Homo sapiens: one gene and its partner. The protein of the gene in region 1 purifies or fractionates together with the protein of each later gene. This does not show direct contact. Each region holds a gene or a part of one and is shown on either strand. Other genes may lie near its edges.

Evidence for each region.
Region 2: the proteins of GOLT1B (region 1) and RTN3 purify together in Homo sapiens (affinity purification with mass spectrometry; 2 studies listed by BioGRID and IntAct, with this or other methods). This does not show direct contact.

What each region holds. Positions count from the first base shown.
Region 1 is NC_000012.12:21,503,655-21,512,397, forward strand, and holds part of GOLT1B (vesicle transport protein GOT1B), read left to right. Parts: intron 1-3,230; coding exon 3,231-3,322; intron 3,323-4,728; coding exon 4,729-4,907; intron 4,908-8,640; coding exon 8,641-8,722; intron 8,723-8,743. UniProt on the Homo sapiens protein: May be involved in fusion of ER-derived transport vesicles with the Golgi complex.
Region 2 is NC_000011.10:63,718,687-63,727,429, forward strand, and holds part of RTN3 (reticulon-3), read left to right. Parts: intron 1-15; coding exon 16-2,346; intron 2,347-7,463; coding exon of another isoform or gene 7,464-7,480; exon of another isoform or gene 7,481-8,743. UniProt on the Homo sapiens protein: May be involved in membrane trafficking in the early secretory pathway. Inhibits BACE1 activity and amyloid precursor protein processing. May induce caspase-8 cascade and apoptosis.

The DNA of each region.
Region 1 (8,743 bases):
GGATTGAAACATAAAACGATTAGTGAACCAAATGCATTTTGGATTTCAAATTGTGTTTGTGTGTGAGTGTGTTTAACTGCAGGGATTGGCCATCATTCAAGTGATTTGTCAGGATTATTCTGGGATTTTGGTTTTTAGAGAGTGGCCAAGCACTGCTCAGAGTAGAATAAATGGAAATTCATGATTATTTTAAGGCATTCTAGGACTTTCCTCACCGCCCCAAAAAAGACAAGACTTATTCAGAGGGGCGGAGGAGGGGCATGCTGCCTCTAAATCTTCATTTCATCACATTGTCTAAAAGCCTAGTGTGATAATTGCATTCTCCAGTACAGTTAATGTTCAATTGAATTCTTGCTTGACTTCTGTTTTTCAAAGGGTATGGTAAGAGAGACAATGCTGCTTTTAAAAAATTGTGAATAAGATATCAAAATGCTAACAGTGTTTGCCATTAGATTATGCGTGTCTTTCCTTATACAATTTCCACAGTATGCTCCTTATGTTAGACAGATTCGTTTTATTAAATTGTTTTTATATTTTTTTTAACTTGTGGACAGTTTTTTAAACATGTGGGAGGAGTGAAGGAAGATAAGTTTGTTTTACTGGATATGATTCCGATGGGAAGAAGGCAGCTCTATGCAAGGCTTTTGATAGCCAGAGGGCTTATGAATGCATACGGATAGGGAAAAGGGGGATCCTGGAGGTGAGAAAAAGGCACAATGAGGCCAATTTGAGACTTTTGACCAGTGTGGATCAGGAGCTACTTGGCAATGTCATTGCCAGTACCAGTTGTGGCAAAGATGTTTTGGGCAATGTCTCCCGCTGGACTGTACTGGATAAAGTAGTGGAATATTTTGGTTCCCATGTTGTAGTTGTAGGACCATTGTCTGTGGAGTGAGAAGACTGGTTGAATGCTGACTTCACAGACTGTTGTACCTGCCTCCATACCACCAGCACCCACACACACATTTTTGCTGCTTCTATGATCAAGAACAAGTTACTGAATTACCTCTAGGTCCATGGTTGCACATATGAACCATAGGACCAGTGCTACCTTTTACCTCACAATTTTGTTAAAGAAATTATAAAATTTTTGTATAAACACTTCATAACACGGTAAACCATACTCAGAGATTGGCCTTTTTGACCGCAGTTAATTTTTAATAGTTCTACTTGGCTATGTTAGATAACAAGCTAATATTAAACTTGAATCCCCTAAAAGATGCGTCCCCCAGAAGTTCAGAATACTCCAGTGTCCTTGAGTTTCATGTAACCAAACACCTTTAACCTAAAAAATAAAAATTCTGTGGGAAGAGGTATGGCATTAATGGTTAAGCACATGAGCTTTGGATTCAAAAGACCTTGGTTCGAATGCTTATCTAGAAGTGTGGCTTTAGGCAACTTAAGTCAACTCTCTAAACTTCAATTTCCTCCATCTTTAAAAAGATGTAATTATACCTGCATTCCAGTAGTATTGGAAGTATTAAGTTATATATAAGGTATGTGAAGCACTTCATAAGGCCTAATTCGTGGTAAATTCTCAGTACATAGTAGGTGTCTTTCCATATACCTTCCTTTCTAAAAACATCTCAGAATTTTTATGTAATCATCAAGGTTATTTGTGAAATGATAGAAATTAGTCATCTTCAACTAACAAAGCTGCCGATGTTTAATCCTAACTACTAAATAGTTATTTAATAGAATTTTACTTGCTCTTTTGTCCATATTTTCCTCTATGAAATTATGTCCACTATCCAAATAGTTAATTTGGTAAATTCTCTTAAGGCCTTTGATCATGAAAGTATCAGCCTCAAATTTTCATAGGAATGTGTGTTGAATTCACTTAACTGGTGTATTTATAGACCAGGTACCTGAATTATTTTAGACTAACTTTGGGAACAAAAGGTGTCTGCAATGGAAGACACTAGTTATCAGGAAATTGAGCAGGTGGGGAATGTAGAAAAAGCTAAAGTTGATAAAAGTTTTCAAGTTATCAGAACATTTTATATGACTTAAGAGTTTTTTAAGTAGCTGTGACCTAGATTTTAGCTTTCTGGAGCTGAGGCAAAAAAGTTAAGCAATAGATCAGAAATCAGTGATAGGGTATTTTAAATTGTGCTTCTAAAAATACGGTGGCTTCTACTCTGACTCATCTGTATGCAGATTGTGCTTCTAACTAAACTACGGATTAATGGCTATTTTCTAGAATCAAAACTAAAATGATCAAGGAGGTAACTTAGTGAATTGTGCTTTATAACATTAATAGAAGAGTACATCTGTCACCTTAGAAGTTAAGACTTTTCATACTAAAAAAATAAGACCTAGAGAATGCACAGTCAATAAAAGTATTAATTTTATATACAAGATAAACATAGACTTTAAAGCTTACACCTCGTCTACCACTGTATATTCAGTACCTGGAACAGTTCCTTGCATCTGGCAGTTGATCAACAATTCTTTGTTTTTTAATGAAACTAATGAAACATGAAAAACCTAGAATATTAATATTAGGTAAAACAGTATTCTTTGAAACTTCGGAGAGGTGATTTTAGGACTCTAGACCAAATATTTAAGTAGATTTATAGTTTAGGTAAATTTGTAGATAAGTCCATAATAAGTAATCAAGAAATTAAAAGTGATGCCTGACCTTCTGAAAATTTGGTTTTGAGAATACTGGTACCATGATTTTCGAAATATTTCTTGTTGCCATTGTGACAAGCAGTATATAATTGGATAAAGGATATTGATTGTGCGGACCTACCATAACATTTCTAATGCAGTAAAGAAGGAATCAATTTTAAGAGGAAGAAAGAACTACAGATATTGTGCATTTAAATAATAATTATAGAATGTGAAAGGAGATAAGTAATTAAGGAAACCTATACATTTATGTCTGATGCGAGAGAGCTTTTCAGGAGGAAAAAAACAAATTACATATTAAAACCAAAGGTTTAGAATCCCGATTTATCTTTTTTATTATAGCTATGTCTGAGAAATGCTATCTCCCATATAAGGCTTAGAAATTTTCATTCATGTTTTAAATTTTGAAATAATTTGCTGATAATTAATTTGTTATAAGAGCTAAATAAATGTCATTATGAAGTTAACCTGCAATGTTGGGTACCTGTTTTCTTATACCTATGAAAGGAAAACTGGAAAATTTTCTTAGTTTACAGGGATGTTAATGTGACTTTAATTTTTCTCTACCCTTAACCATATACCTTATATTGCAGAAATTGGAATGGGATTAACAGGATTTGGAGTGTTTTTCCTGTTCTTTGGAATGATTCTCTTTTTTGACAAAGCACTACTGGCTATTGGAAATGTGAGTTTTTAAATATATATTTTAACTAAATTTATAAGGAAATTTTAACTACGAATGAATTATTATCTGCTATTAAATTTGGGGAAAATAATTCACTATTACTCATAAGTAATTCCTGTTACATTCTCTATTTCCATCAGGAATGAAACCTGTCAGCTTTCTGTTTAAATAAAAGGTAAACACTTAATGAGGTTTTCTAATTCCATAACTACTCTGTTAAGTGTTTGTCATGAGATTTACAATAGATTAAATGAAGGCTGCCTCTAAATAGGAGTTCAAAATAGATGACTTGATAGTTTCATGTCTTGATAAATCACTAAAGTATTTTTACTTTAAACATCCAAGACTTCACATTTGATTCAGCTGCATAAGATAGATTTTTTTAACCTTTTTAAAAATATATATTTCTATGTTAATGGTTGACTTGCTTAGAAAGGGATCTATGTTGTTTATTTGGAATGTGTACTATGCTATTCATGTGTGGAGGTTATGATCCAGAAATAAATAATAACCCTTCTAAGGTAGTGAAGACACTGTATGTGTGTGTGTGTGTATATATATATATACACACACACATATATATTTGGGCTTTTAACTGGAAATGGGAAAAGATAAAGAATAGCAAAATTGTTCAAAATTGATGTCTTAATAAATGATAATAGCATTAGTATCCTAGAATATGAAGCTTAACCATTAGGCTTAATATGTATTTGTGCGAAATATTTTTCACTAAAGAATGTTAATGGGGAGGGCAAGTATTTGGAAAGAAAACCTGGGGAAAGCAAGCTCTTAATCCATCACCATTTCTTGTCCACAGAATACATTCAAAATATTTGAAAACACATGGTTGTATTTTTATTTCTGCTGCCACCAGATATTCTAGAATTTATAAAACTAGAATCTTCTTGGCTTCACGTTGTTTCTTCTGCTATCAACTTAGCCATGTCAATATTTCTCCCATCCATAGAAACTCCTGTAGCCTATGATGAATATTTCAGAACCAAGAGGAATACCCTTGGGTGACATATTTATGGGCAGCTTTCCTCTTTATGCCTTGCCAACTCATCTGCTTGACTAAGCCTTCCTCATCCAGCTAAAACTAGGAAAACTACTGCAGACACAGATGCCCCTTGGTAACGTCTAATCTTTCTTTGTTTCTCTTTTTCTCCATTTAATCAAGATAGAAGAGGAATGAGACAAGTGGAACAAAGCTACAACTTTAAAATGCATAACCCACTCCTTGGTTCTGCTGCTTGGTTGTACATTACAGTTCTGTCTGGCCAGTTGCCCACATTAAAAGCCAAACAAATGTGCTTCTTTTTTTATATTTAGCTTTGACTTTACGTTTAAAATTTATGCATTGTGTTTAATTACCTTTTCCGTGTTGTATTTTCTTTCTCTTTTAGGTTTTATTTGTAGCCGGCTTGGCTTTTGTAATTGGTTTAGAAAGAACATTCAGATTCTTCTTCCAAAAACATAAAATGAAAGCTACAGGTTTTTTTCTGGGTGGTGTATTTGTAGTCCTTATTGGTTGGCCTTTGATAGGCATGATCTTCGAAATTTATGGATTTTTTCTCTTGTTCAGGTAAGGCATATTATTGTCTCTTTCAGTAAATCAGTGTGTCAGATAGTTAGTACAAAAACTCAGATATTTGCATCAGTTGGAGTAAGATGATGATCATTTCCTTAAATGGAATTTTATTTAGGTTGAATCTTATAGATTTAGATGAAGCAACTATAAAAATGTTTTATCACATGTGAATGATTGCCTAATGGTATAAATTATCTTGTTTTGTCAGCACAATAAAGTTTATTTTATTGGCATTTTAAGGCACCATCTTTATGTTGGATATTTGTATCAACTAAATAGTGGTAGGTAGGTCGGTCGATCGATCAATCGGTAGGTAGGTAGGTAGATAGATAGATAGATAGATAGATAGATAGATCCAGCATTTTGGTGTGTAGAATCTTATACTTCATAGCTACTGCTACTTGATGGAAATTTATTTAGCACATATACGTATTAGAAGATTGTTTACCAAATACACTACTATGGGAGATTTTGAGCAGGTAATATTTTGTAAATGCCAGTTAGCAGATAAACAATAGTATGTGTATATATCTATATGAAAATACCTTTGGCCAGGTGCGGTGGCTCACACCTGTAATCCCAGCACTTTGGGAGGCCGAGGTGGGCGGATCACCTGAGGTCAGGAGGTCAAGACCAGCCTGGCCAGCATGATGAAACCCCGTCTCTACTAAAAATTCAAAAATTAGCTGGCCATGCTGGCAGGCGCCTGTAATCCTAGCTACTCGGGAGGCTGAGGCAGGCGAATTGTTTGAACCTGGGAGGCGGAAGTTGCAGTGAGCCGATCACACCATTGCACTCCAGCCTAGGCAATAGAGCGAGACTCTGTCTCAAAAAAAAAAAAAAAAAAAAAAAAAAAACAGAAAAGAAAATAACTTTAAGTAGGGTTGAGCTTAATTATTTATTCCAGAAATGCATATCCTTTGTCTTCTGTCTGCCAGGCACTGTATTACCCACAGGAGACATAAAAATAAATTAAGTACCAAATCTGCTTTAGAAAATCTCTCATTTCTATTATGGAAAGTAGACTCTAAAAATACCAATAGGATATAGTCATAATGCCATTATAAATGTGTATGCAGAATATTGTGGAAGCATGATTAAAAAATTAGTAAATTCAAGGAGAGGTGAGAAATGTTAACTGATAAACTGGGCTTTGAAGAATGGGTAAGAATTTATCCTATAAACGAGAAAGGGAACGACAGTTAACAGAAGGAACAGACAGGGCCATAAAAACACACAGCTTGTTCTGAAAAGAATGAATACTCTTATAGAACAGGAGCATGTGATCAGTTGAAGGAAATGGTTGGTAATGAAACTGAAAATGAAGCCTGGAGCCAGGTTACAAACTTTCTTTGATGACTTGTTGAGAAAAGTATACCTTATCCTGTAACCAAATTTGGGCTGGGGGAGCAGTGTTTGGAGAAGGTCGGGGGAGTGGGGCACAGAGGTTTTTAAGCCAGAGGTGGTACAACAGGGTAGATGTTTTAGGAAGGTTGTTCTGATATCAGGATAAAGTAGGTATTAAAGAGAAAAACTGAAGTCAGGGGAGCCAGTCAAGAGGCGGTTAATACAGTACAGAATATACAGTGATAAGACTGGAATCTTGGAGTACTTTTGACATTTTAGGGTAGGTGGAGAAAAAGAAGAAAACACTAGAAGAGACTAGGAAAAGAGGTGGGAGAAGAACTAGGAGTAAAGATCATAGTGGCTAAGAGAGAAAAGAGTGAAGAAGAGTTTGTTTTGGCAGATGTATCTTGCAGCAGAAAACTTAAGCACCTTAAGAAGTAAGAAAATCATTGGCTTTCCCAGTTATGTGGGGGTTTTAGTAATGAAGGTTAAAAGCCAAAGCTGATCTTTGAGATGAATAAAAAATGGGAAGTCTTAGTATCATCGACAAGCTTGGAGTAATACACAGGTTTCGTGGTTTAGAGAGCTTTGTGGTATAAATACTAGTTTTTGTTGTTGGGTTTTGTTGTGTTCTGAGATATTCTGAGCTGGAGATTTAGTGCCAAGGGTCTTTGATGTTGTTTTTCTAGATATTTATAACCCTAAATAATGGCATTTGAAATCACACATTTTTATGTTTTAAAACAATACTTAAAACAAAATAAATGATCTTTTGAATTCATTACTACTAGAAAATGATTGTGATTTTCTTTGAAACACGCACATACACCATCAACATAAATACTTGTCTAATTTAAAAATTCTGCTTTCTGTTTAATTCTTTATTTTGACTTCTGCAGATCCATAACAGAATCTTATTGCTTAACTTCTGAATTGTATTCATTGTAGTATTTTCATCCCTATCTAACTCTGTGAAGAAAACAGCTTTTTTTCTGTACTCGTCTTACCACAATCAACACAGAAGACTGCTGTGACCAAATGGGTGGGGGGTTTTCCCGATATCGCAATCAGTTAGTTGTCTGCAACAGACAACAGCTGGGTGTCCTCCCAATATAGTTCTGATACTGTCTACATGGAGATAGCTCCAGATCACACAGGTTGAGGGCTCAGTCCCACAACTGTCCTCCACTCCCAATGATGCCAGCCACAAGCCCCAGGTTGTTTTACCCATGCTTCTGACTGATCAGCTCTAAGTTGGGGTTCCCACGATCCCCTGTTTGGATCAGACTAATTTACTAGAGAGGCTCACAGAGCTCAAGGAAACACTGATGTTTACTAGTTTATTATAAAGGATATTACAAAGGATACAAATAAAGAGATGCATAGGGCAAGGAAAGGGGGGAGGGTCGCAGATCCCCCCCCACCCTCCCCAACCCACCATCCTCCAAGAACATCCTTGTGTTCAGCTATCCGGAAGCTCCCTGAACACTGTCCTTTTGGGTTTTTATGGAGGCTTCATTACTAGGCATGATTGATTAAATTATTGGCCATGAGTGACCAGCTTCACAGCCCCCCTCCCCTTCGTGGAGGTTAGGAGGTAGGGCTCAGATTTCCAGCCCTCTAATCTTGCCTTGGTCTTTCTGGTGACCAGCCCCCATCCTGAAGCTGCCTAGGGGCTGCCAACCATTGATGATAACTCATTAGTATACAAAAAGACATCACCTTGTAGAGACTCTTAAGTATTTTAGGAGTTGTAAGCCAGAAAATGAGGTCAAAGACCAAATATATATTTCACAGTATCACTACATATTTTAAGACCCAGGAAAAGTTTAGTTTCTTTGCATTTTTAAAATAAACTATTTCATTCTCTTCCTATACTGAGGTAGCTTAACTGATCTACTGTCAATTTTAAACTGGTTAGAAGCTGTTTAACTTCTGTAGACTTGTATTTCTACCAAGAAAGAATGAGACATACTGTGAGGATCAGTATCTGGCAGGTAGTCTCTTAGTGTTAACTAAATGTTTTGACCCTTAGTACTTACTTAGTAAATGATAGCTATTATTATTTTCATGGTTCTACACATATGGTCTCAACAGCCCCTTTCTTTTTATCAGTTTCACCCCACACAACTCATAGTTGGAGAAATCTTCAGCAGTTGAGCTAACTCATAATCTGAGTTATATATAGCTAGGCCTCATGTACTTGTCACATTTTTACCAACAATCACAAAATTTTTAATTAAGTTTGTAGTTATTTCTAAGTTTGAAGACCCTCAATTATTCAGAATTTTAACAGGATACTTTCTTTTTCCTTGGTTAGCAATTATTTTGAAAATAGAAAATGTGTAAATATTAAGAACCTTTTTTTTCCCTCTCCCAGGGGCTTCTTTCCTGTCGTTGTTGGCTTTATTAGAAGAGTGCCAGTCCTTGGATCCCTCCTAAATTTACCTGGAATTAGATCAGTAAGTAATCATGTATATTTT
Region 2 (8,743 bases), on another chromosome or scaffold:
AAATTCTGATCATAGAGGGATTGAGCTCTCTTTGCTCTGATGAGCCATCTTCAGAAATTATGACTTCTTCCTTTCTTTCATCTTCTGAAATACATAACACTGGCCTTACAATACTACATGGAGAAAAAAGCCATGTGTTAGGGAGCCAGCCTATTTTAGCCAAAGAAGGAAAAGACCACTTGGATCTTCTAGATATGAAAAAGATGGAAAAGCCTCAGGGGACCAGCAACAACGTATCAGACTCTTCAGTTTCTCTTGCAGCAGGAGTTCATTGTGACCGTCCTTCTATTCCAGCCAGTTTCCCAGAGCATCCTGCTTTTCTCTCAAAGAAAATTGGTCAAGTGGAAGAGCAAATAGATAAAGAGACCAAGAACCCAAATGGGGTATCAAGTAGGGAGGCTAAAACTGCATTGGATGCTGATGACAGATTCACTTTGCTGACAGCCCAGAAACCACCTACTGAGTACTCTAAGGTAGAAGGCATTTATACATATTCTTTGTCTCCATCCAAAGTTTCAGGAGATGATGTTATTGAAAAGGATTCCCCTGAATCACCATTTGAAGTAATTATTGACAAAGCAGCATTTGACAAAGAATTTAAAGACTCATATAAGGAGAGCACAGATGATTTTGGTAGCTGGTCTGTGCACACTGATAAAGAATCATCCGAAGACATTTCAGAGACTAATGACAAGCTTTTTCCACTGAGAAATAAAGAGGCAGGACGTTACCCAATGTCTGCATTGCTCAGTAGGCAGTTTTCACACACAAATGCAGCACTGGAAGAGGTGTCCAGATGCGTGAATGATATGCATAACTTTACTAACGAAATACTGACTTGGGATCTGGTTCCCCAAGTGAAACAACAGACCGATAAATCTTCTGACTGCATCACAAAAACTACAGGACTTGACATGAGTGAATATAATTCAGAAATTCCAGTTGTAAATCTTAAAACTAGCACTCATCAGAAAACTCCTGTATGTTCTATTGATGGGAGCACTCCCATCACTAAATCAACAGGTGATTGGGCAGAAGCATCTCTCCAGCAAGAAAATGCTATTACTGGAAAACCTGTACCTGACTCTTTGAATTCCACAAAAGAATTCAGTATCAAAGGTGTGCAAGGCAATATGCAGAAACAGGATGACACACTTGCAGAATTACCTGGATCTCCACCTGAGAAATGTGACTCTTTGGGTTCTGGAGTGGCCACAGTGAAAGTGGTTTTACCTGATGACCACCTGAAAGATGAAATGGACTGGCAGAGCTCTGCATTGGGAGAAATCACAGAAGCTGATAGTTCTGGTGAGTCTGATGACACAGTAATAGAGGACATCACAGCAGATACATCATTTGAAAATAACAAAATTCAGGCTGAAAAACCTGTTTCCATTCCAAGTGCTGTTGTAAAAACAGGTGAAAGAGAAATCAAAGAGATTCCCAGTTGTGAGAGAGAAGAAAAAACATCTAAAAACTTTGAAGAATTGGTCAGTGACTCTGAGCTGCATCAAGATCAGCCTGATATTCTTGGAAGGAGTCCAGCTAGTGAGGCAGCATGTTCAAAAGTACCCGATACGAATGTCTCCTTAGAAGATGTGAGTGAAGTTGCTCCTGAAAAGCCTATTACTACTGAGAACCCCAAACTTCCTTCAACAGTGTCTCCAAATGTTTTTAATGAGACAGAATTCTCATTAAATGTGACAACATCTGCCTATTTGGAGTCATTACATGGGAAAAATGTTAAACATATAGATGATTCCTCCCCAGAGGACCTGATAGCAGCCTTTACAGAAACCAGAGATAAAGGAATAGTAGATAGTGAAAGAAATGCTTTTAAAGCAATATCAGAGAAGATGACAGACTTTAAAACAACTCCTCCTGTAGAAGTCTTACATGAAAATGAGTCCGGTGGTTCTGAAATTAAAGACATTGGAAGCAAATACAGTGAACAAAGCAAAGAAACAAATGGAAGTGAGCCTCTAGGTGTTTTCCCTACCCAAGGTACTCCAGTAGCATCTCTTGACTTAGAACAAGAACAGCTCACAATTAAGGCTCTTAAAGAATTAGGTGAAAGACAGGTTGAGAAGTCAACTTCTGCACAGCGTGACGCAGAATTGCCTTCTGAAGAAGTACTGAAGCAAACTTTCACATTTGCTCCAGAATCTTGGCCACAGAGATCATATGACATCCTAGAACGTAATGTCAAGAATGGATCTGATCTTGGGATTTCCCAGAAGCCCATCACTATCAGAGAAACTACTAGGGTAGATGCTGTTTCCAGCCTTAGCAAGACTGAATTGGTAAAAAAGCATGTCCTAGCAAGACTTCTGACAGACTTCTCAGGTAACCATTTATATTAGAATACTGCATGTGGTTAATTCTGTGATTGATTACTTATCAGCGTGCCATTTATGTTAGTCTGATTTATACCTACAAAATTATGGCTAAAATACAAAAACAATATGCTGTATGATGGGAAAGGCAGATTCTTCTCCTGTCTTTTTTTAAATGATTGCTTGATTTGGTTTCCTTAATATCAATATTTCCCAAAGCAGTAGACCACTTTGTAACATTAATCTTCCCCTAAATATTTTTTCTATGCTCGCTGGGTACGGTGGCTCACGCCTATAATCCCAGCACTTTGGGAGGCCGAGACGGGCGGATCACAAGGTCAGGAGATTGAGACCATCCTGGCTAACACGGTGAAACCCCGTCTCTACTAAAAATACAGAAAAATTAGCTGGACGTGGTGGCGGGCGCCTGTAGTCCCAGCTGCTTGGGAGGCTGAGGCAGGAGAATGGCGTAAACCCGGGAGGCAGAGCTTGCAGTGAGATGAGATCGCGCCAGTACACTCCAGCCTGGGTGACAGAGCAAGACTCTGTCTCAAAAAAAAAAAAAAAAAGAAAATTTTTTTTCTATGCTCCAGTTATATTTCAAGGTACTTCTTTTCTTATAGGTTGCCCCTAAGGTGATATTAGGTGAGAATCTAATATCATCAGGTTCTTACTTATTTACAAAGCTTGTTTTTAAATCTCCATAATTGTCATACTTTTTAGCACTTGGATTTTTTGATATGTGCTTTGTGGAATCTTAGCAATCAAAGATAAAGGAATTCCTGCTGGGAAAGATAGTAAATGAAACTTTTAATTAATGTGATCGTATACTATAGAGATTTTATGCTCTGAAAGTAGGTAACCAGTATTGTAGTACTATTTTGTGAGTAATGCTTAGGAGAACTCATGCATTCTTCTACTTTCTATCTTATTTAATATTCTTCAGGCCAAAACTCATTATTAGATGGTACCAGAAACCCCTTCTCTTGTCTTTTATCTATTTCAAATGATCACTTTTCTAGCAAGTGGCTTTCAGTTAGATTACTGCAAATGCTGTCTATTCTGGGATCTTGGAAAGTACAAGAAAAAAAAAGGATCTTTCAAGCCCCTCTACAAGGGACCCCCATCCTTTAATGTAATACCAAGTTTTACATCTACTGTATGGTCAGTGTTAGGTGCTATGTAGAGGTCTGTGGTTTTTAAACTATTTGATTATAGATCTTTTATCAAATGAAATCATACACAGAGTTGTAGTATTTACAAGAAAATTAGATTTTTGTTAGGCTAAATGTATTTTGTGTTTGATTTTGTGCCTTTTTATAAAGGCATTTTCTTACTGGAAACTGTAGGTAGATTTATCTTTTTAAGTTTTAATATTTAAAATAGATAAATTGTACTTAACCTTACAATGGTATTGTGAGGATTAAATATGAAAATGCAGGTAATACAGTGCCTAGCACATAGTAAATATGCAGTCAGATTTAGCACCAAATACAGGGCCTGCCACATAAGTAGTACTGGATAATTATTTGTTGAATGAATGATATGAATTATTTCACTAACAATTATCAGTGAAAGACATTGAGGCTTTTTGATAAACCAAAAATTTTGAATTACCAATTAAGGATAGCTCTTATACTCTAGCATTTGAAGCTCACTGAATTTGGATTAAAGAGTACTAGGTTCTAATTCTTGCTGTGCTGTGTCTAGAAGTATGACTTTGAACAAGTAACTTACATAACCTTTCGGGGGCCTCAGTTTTAATATCTGTAAAGTGAGGATGTAAAGTGAAGTAGATGGTCTTCAATTATCATTTAAATAATATGATTCTCTGGCTCTGGTACATTCTAGATTTCTTCCTCAGTTGTCATAATTCTTACAGGTAGTAACTTTTGGGCAATAAGGCATATAGGAATTATGCTACAAGAACTCCAGTGTCTAATTCTGGCAAATTCCTGTTTTAGCATGACCTTAGATGACTAGTCTAATTGGTTCAGCATCTTCCTTTGTTAATGTGATGATCATTATTTTGCCCTGCTTTGTATGTTGCAGTAAATAAAGTGCTGTGTAAATGCTAATTATTAGTGATTATCAACTGAATTATTTAATCTAGCGTGAGAGATGTAAAGGGCTATGGAAGTTCAGGATATTTGTCACTGACCAAAGTCTATGATTAGTGTATGTTTTTAGATTGTAATTAAAGAAGACCGGTATAGTTAGACCAAGAAGTTTAAAGGCCTTTCTTGCAGCTTTCAAAAGTGAAAACCTTTTAAAATTGTCTTATTTATGAATAAATCTTTAAAAATATAATCCATTTCATTGCAGTGAAATAAATAAATAAAAACATAAACCATTTCAGTAAAATGCATCAGTGTCTAGTTTTATTTATTTATCTTTTTTTTTTTTTTTTTAATTTTTTGAGACAGAGTCTCACTCTGTTGCCCAGGCTGGAGTGCAGTGGCGCGATCTCGGCTCACTGCAACCTCCACCTCCAGGGTTCAAGCGACTCTCCTGCCTCAGCCTTCCGAGTAGCTGGGATTACAGGCGTGTGCCACCACGCCCAGCTAATTTTTTGTATTTTTACTAGAGATGGGGTTTCACCATGTTGGCCAGGCTGGTCTCTCAAACTCCTGGCTTCAAGTGATCCGCCTGCGTTGGCCTCTCAAAGTGCTGGGATTTACAGGCCTGAGCCACCACACACAGCCGATTGTCTAGTTTTAAATACGTGTATCTGCATATTCTTCCTTTCTAAGGTAAAAACAGTGCTTTAATTATATTCTGCCTTAAGTTGTTTGGGAAAATAGGCAAAAGAAACAATGAAAGAATTAGTGGTTTTCTGTTTGTTTTTGCTATTTTATGGTATATTATGTAACAGCTTGTAATGAAGCCTTTATCATATTATAGTTGGTTGCTGAGTAATTAAGTTATGATAGACTCTCATAGTTTGGGGAAGAAAATCAGATCCCTGCCTCTCACATACCTAGTGTAGTGAAGATAGTTTTTTGTGTTTTAGTATCCAGATTGGCAGGATGCAAGGAAATAAGCATATAGTTTGGTGAAGTACATGTAAATTGTTACAGCCTTTCTGGAAGGCAGTTGGCAATATGTAACAGACCTAGAACTGCCCTAGCAATCTTGTTTTTAGGAATTCTTTTTTTTTTTTTTTTTTTTTTTTTTTGAGACAGAGTCTCGCTCTGTCGCCCAGGCTGGAGTGCAGTGGCGCAATCTCGGCTCACTGCAAGCTCTGCCTCCCGGGTTCACGCCATTCTCCTGCCTCAGCCTCCCGAGTAGCTGGGATTACGGGCGCCTGCTACCACGCCCGGCTAATTTTTTGTATTTTTTAGTACAGACGGGGTTTCACCATGTTAGCCAGGATGGCCTCAATCTCCTGACCTGGTGATCTGCCCACCTCGGCCTCCCAAAGTGCTGGGATTACAGGCGTGAGCCACCCGTGCCCGGCCCTTTTTTTTTTTTTTTTTTTTTTTTAAAGACAGAGTCTCACCGTGTTGCCCAGGCTGGAGTGCAATGGCACGATCTCGGGTCACTGCAACCTCCACCTCCCGGGTTCAAGCGATTCTCCTGCCTCAGCCTCCCAAGTAGCTGGGATTACAGGTGCCTGCCACCACGCCCGGCTAATTTTTTGTATTATTAGTAAAGACGGAGTTTCACTATATTGGCCAGGCTGGTCTCGAACTCCTGACCTCGTGATCCGCCCGCCTTGGCTTCCCAAAATACTGAGATTACAGGCGTGAGCCACGGAACCCAGCTGGAATTTATCCTTTTTTAAAAATGTGCAAAAATAACTACACAGATGTTCATTATAGCACAGTTTATGATAGTGGCAGATATCTCGGTGTCTTAACAATTAGAGATTGGTTGAGTATATTATGGTATAACTGTGCAATCGAATATTACACAGTCATTGAAGTTGTTAAAGTTTTGTTTTTTTTTTTTTTAAGAAATGGAAAAATATAGAAAAGTACAAAGGCAGCCTACACCCATATCTTCTCTATATGTAGAATTAACTTATGTTAATTGTTAGCATTGGTAGTCATATTTGCTTCCAAACTAAAGGACTCTTTGATTACCACCTGGCCACGCCCTCCATCTCCCCTTCCCCAGACGTAACACCGTCATGGACCTGGTACATCCTTCCAGTTTATTTTAAATAAATGTGTTTGTATTGTTTTATGCTTTTTAACCATTCATTCATGTTATCATGTTTGTTGTATAACGTTTTCCATTCAACATTAGGTTTTTAAACTTCTTTCATGTTGGAATTTATATAATTTATTCATTTTAACAGCTATGTAGTAATCCATTATATGAATATATTATTTTCTTTTGGTAAGGATTTAGATTCTTTCCTATTTTTTGCTATTATAGACAGCGCTGAAGTTAACATTCTTCTTTTTTTTTTTCCTTTTTCTTTTTCTTTTTTGAGATGGAGGAGTTTCACTCTGTCGCCCAGGCTGGAGTGCAGTGGTGCAATCTCCGCTCACTGCAAGCTCCGCCTCCCGGGTTCATGCCATTCTCCCGCCTCAGCCTCCTGAGTAGCTGGGACTACAGGCGCCTGCTACCACGCCCAGCTAATTTTATTTTTGTATTTTTAGTAGAGTCGGGGTTTCACTGTGTTAGCCAGGATGGTCTCAATCTCCTGGCCTCGTGATCCGCCCGCCTCGGCCTCCCAAAGTGCTGGAATTACAGGCATGAGCCACCGCGCCCGGCCTTAAGTTAACGTTGTTATACTTGTCTGTTTTTACACATATGTGACTATTTCCCCAGCGTTAGGGTGCTACTGCTTATCAGTTTCACTTCTAGCTCTGTGCCTTATTTTTCTAGTTACTGTCAAAGTTAGTGTCTTCTGTTATGTAAAAATGTTCGTAATTTATTAGTAAAAACTACATTGTTCAGCACCCAGCAGATGGTGGGTGCTAAAGTGGAATGAAAAGAGTTACCAAACAAGGAATACAAAATAATTCCTATCTTGGTATCATTTAAAGTGAATCTATGCTAGAAAGATTCCATAAAGAAAAAAAATGAATCTATATACCTACATATACAGGGAATCTGAAGTAATTTTTAAAAGCAATGTCAGAATGGTTTTCTTTTCTTATGGCCAAGTAGGCTTTTACTGGACCTGACCTTCCTGCATATAACTGGACAAAATTTTTAAAAAACAAAGACCCGAAGGCACTGGAGGATGAACGGGAGCAGTCAGATTCTGAAAGAGAGTTGACACATGTAAGAAGAGACAGCATGAAATTAGTTTTTTATTTTTACTGCTTTTAGCTAGAGGACAGGCTGAAGTGGGCACCTGACAGGCTGGCTTAAACCTTCATAGAAAACCTAAGCAGTGGACAGCATTTGGGTCAGCCACAACCACTGAGTCAGTGGAATGTAAGGGGAGGAGGAATCTTGGAAGGGAGAGATCCAGAGAGTGACAGCCTAAAATTCTGTAGATAAAATAAACTGTGTTTAAGCCTCTGTTTAATTGTAAACCACACTTAACACAAAAGATTATAAGCAGCACAACTAGAGATGAAAGAAGTGAACTGGGCCGGGTGCAATGGCCCACGCCTGTAATCCCAGCACTTTGGGAGGCCAAGGCGGGTGGATCACGAGATCAGGAGTTCAAGACCAGCCTGGTCAAGCTGGTGAAACCCCATCTCTACTAAAAATACAAAAATTAGCCGGGCACATTGGCAGGCGCCTGTAATCCCACCTACTCAGGTGGCTGAGGCAGGAGAATCGCTTGAACCCCTGGGGGTGGAGGTTGCAGTGAGCCAAGATCATGCCATTGCACTACAGCCTGGGTGACAGAGTAAGACTCCGTCTGAAAAAAAAAAAAAAAAAGAAGAAGTGAGCCGAGTTTGTAGTTTGAAGGCCAGGCACAGTGGCTCATGCCTGTAATCCCAGTACTTCAGGAGGCTGAAGCAGGTGGATCACTTGAGCCCAAGAGTTCAAGGCCAGCCTGGGCAGCATGGTGAAACCCCATCTCCACTAAAAAATACAAAATTAAGCCAGGCATGGTGGCCTGTGCCTGTAGTCCCTGAGCCCAGGGAGGTCAGGGGTGCAGATCGCACCACTGCACTCCAGCCTGGGTGACAGAGTAAGACTCTATCTTGAAAAAAAAAGTTTGCAGTTTGAATCTAACCAAATTTATTACATGTTAAAACAAAAGTAATGATACTCTCCAGAGGAATAGAACACAGTCTGGAATTTGTACAGCATAATATTCACAATGTCCAGGATATAATCCAAAACTACATGTTTTAAGAACCAAGAAATTATAACTCAGTCTGAAGAAAAAGAGACAATCGATAGAAACTAACTGCATGTGTTGGAATTAGGAGTCAGGATTTTAAGGGTTTTCATTTTAATCACTCAAAGAAGTAAAGGGAAAT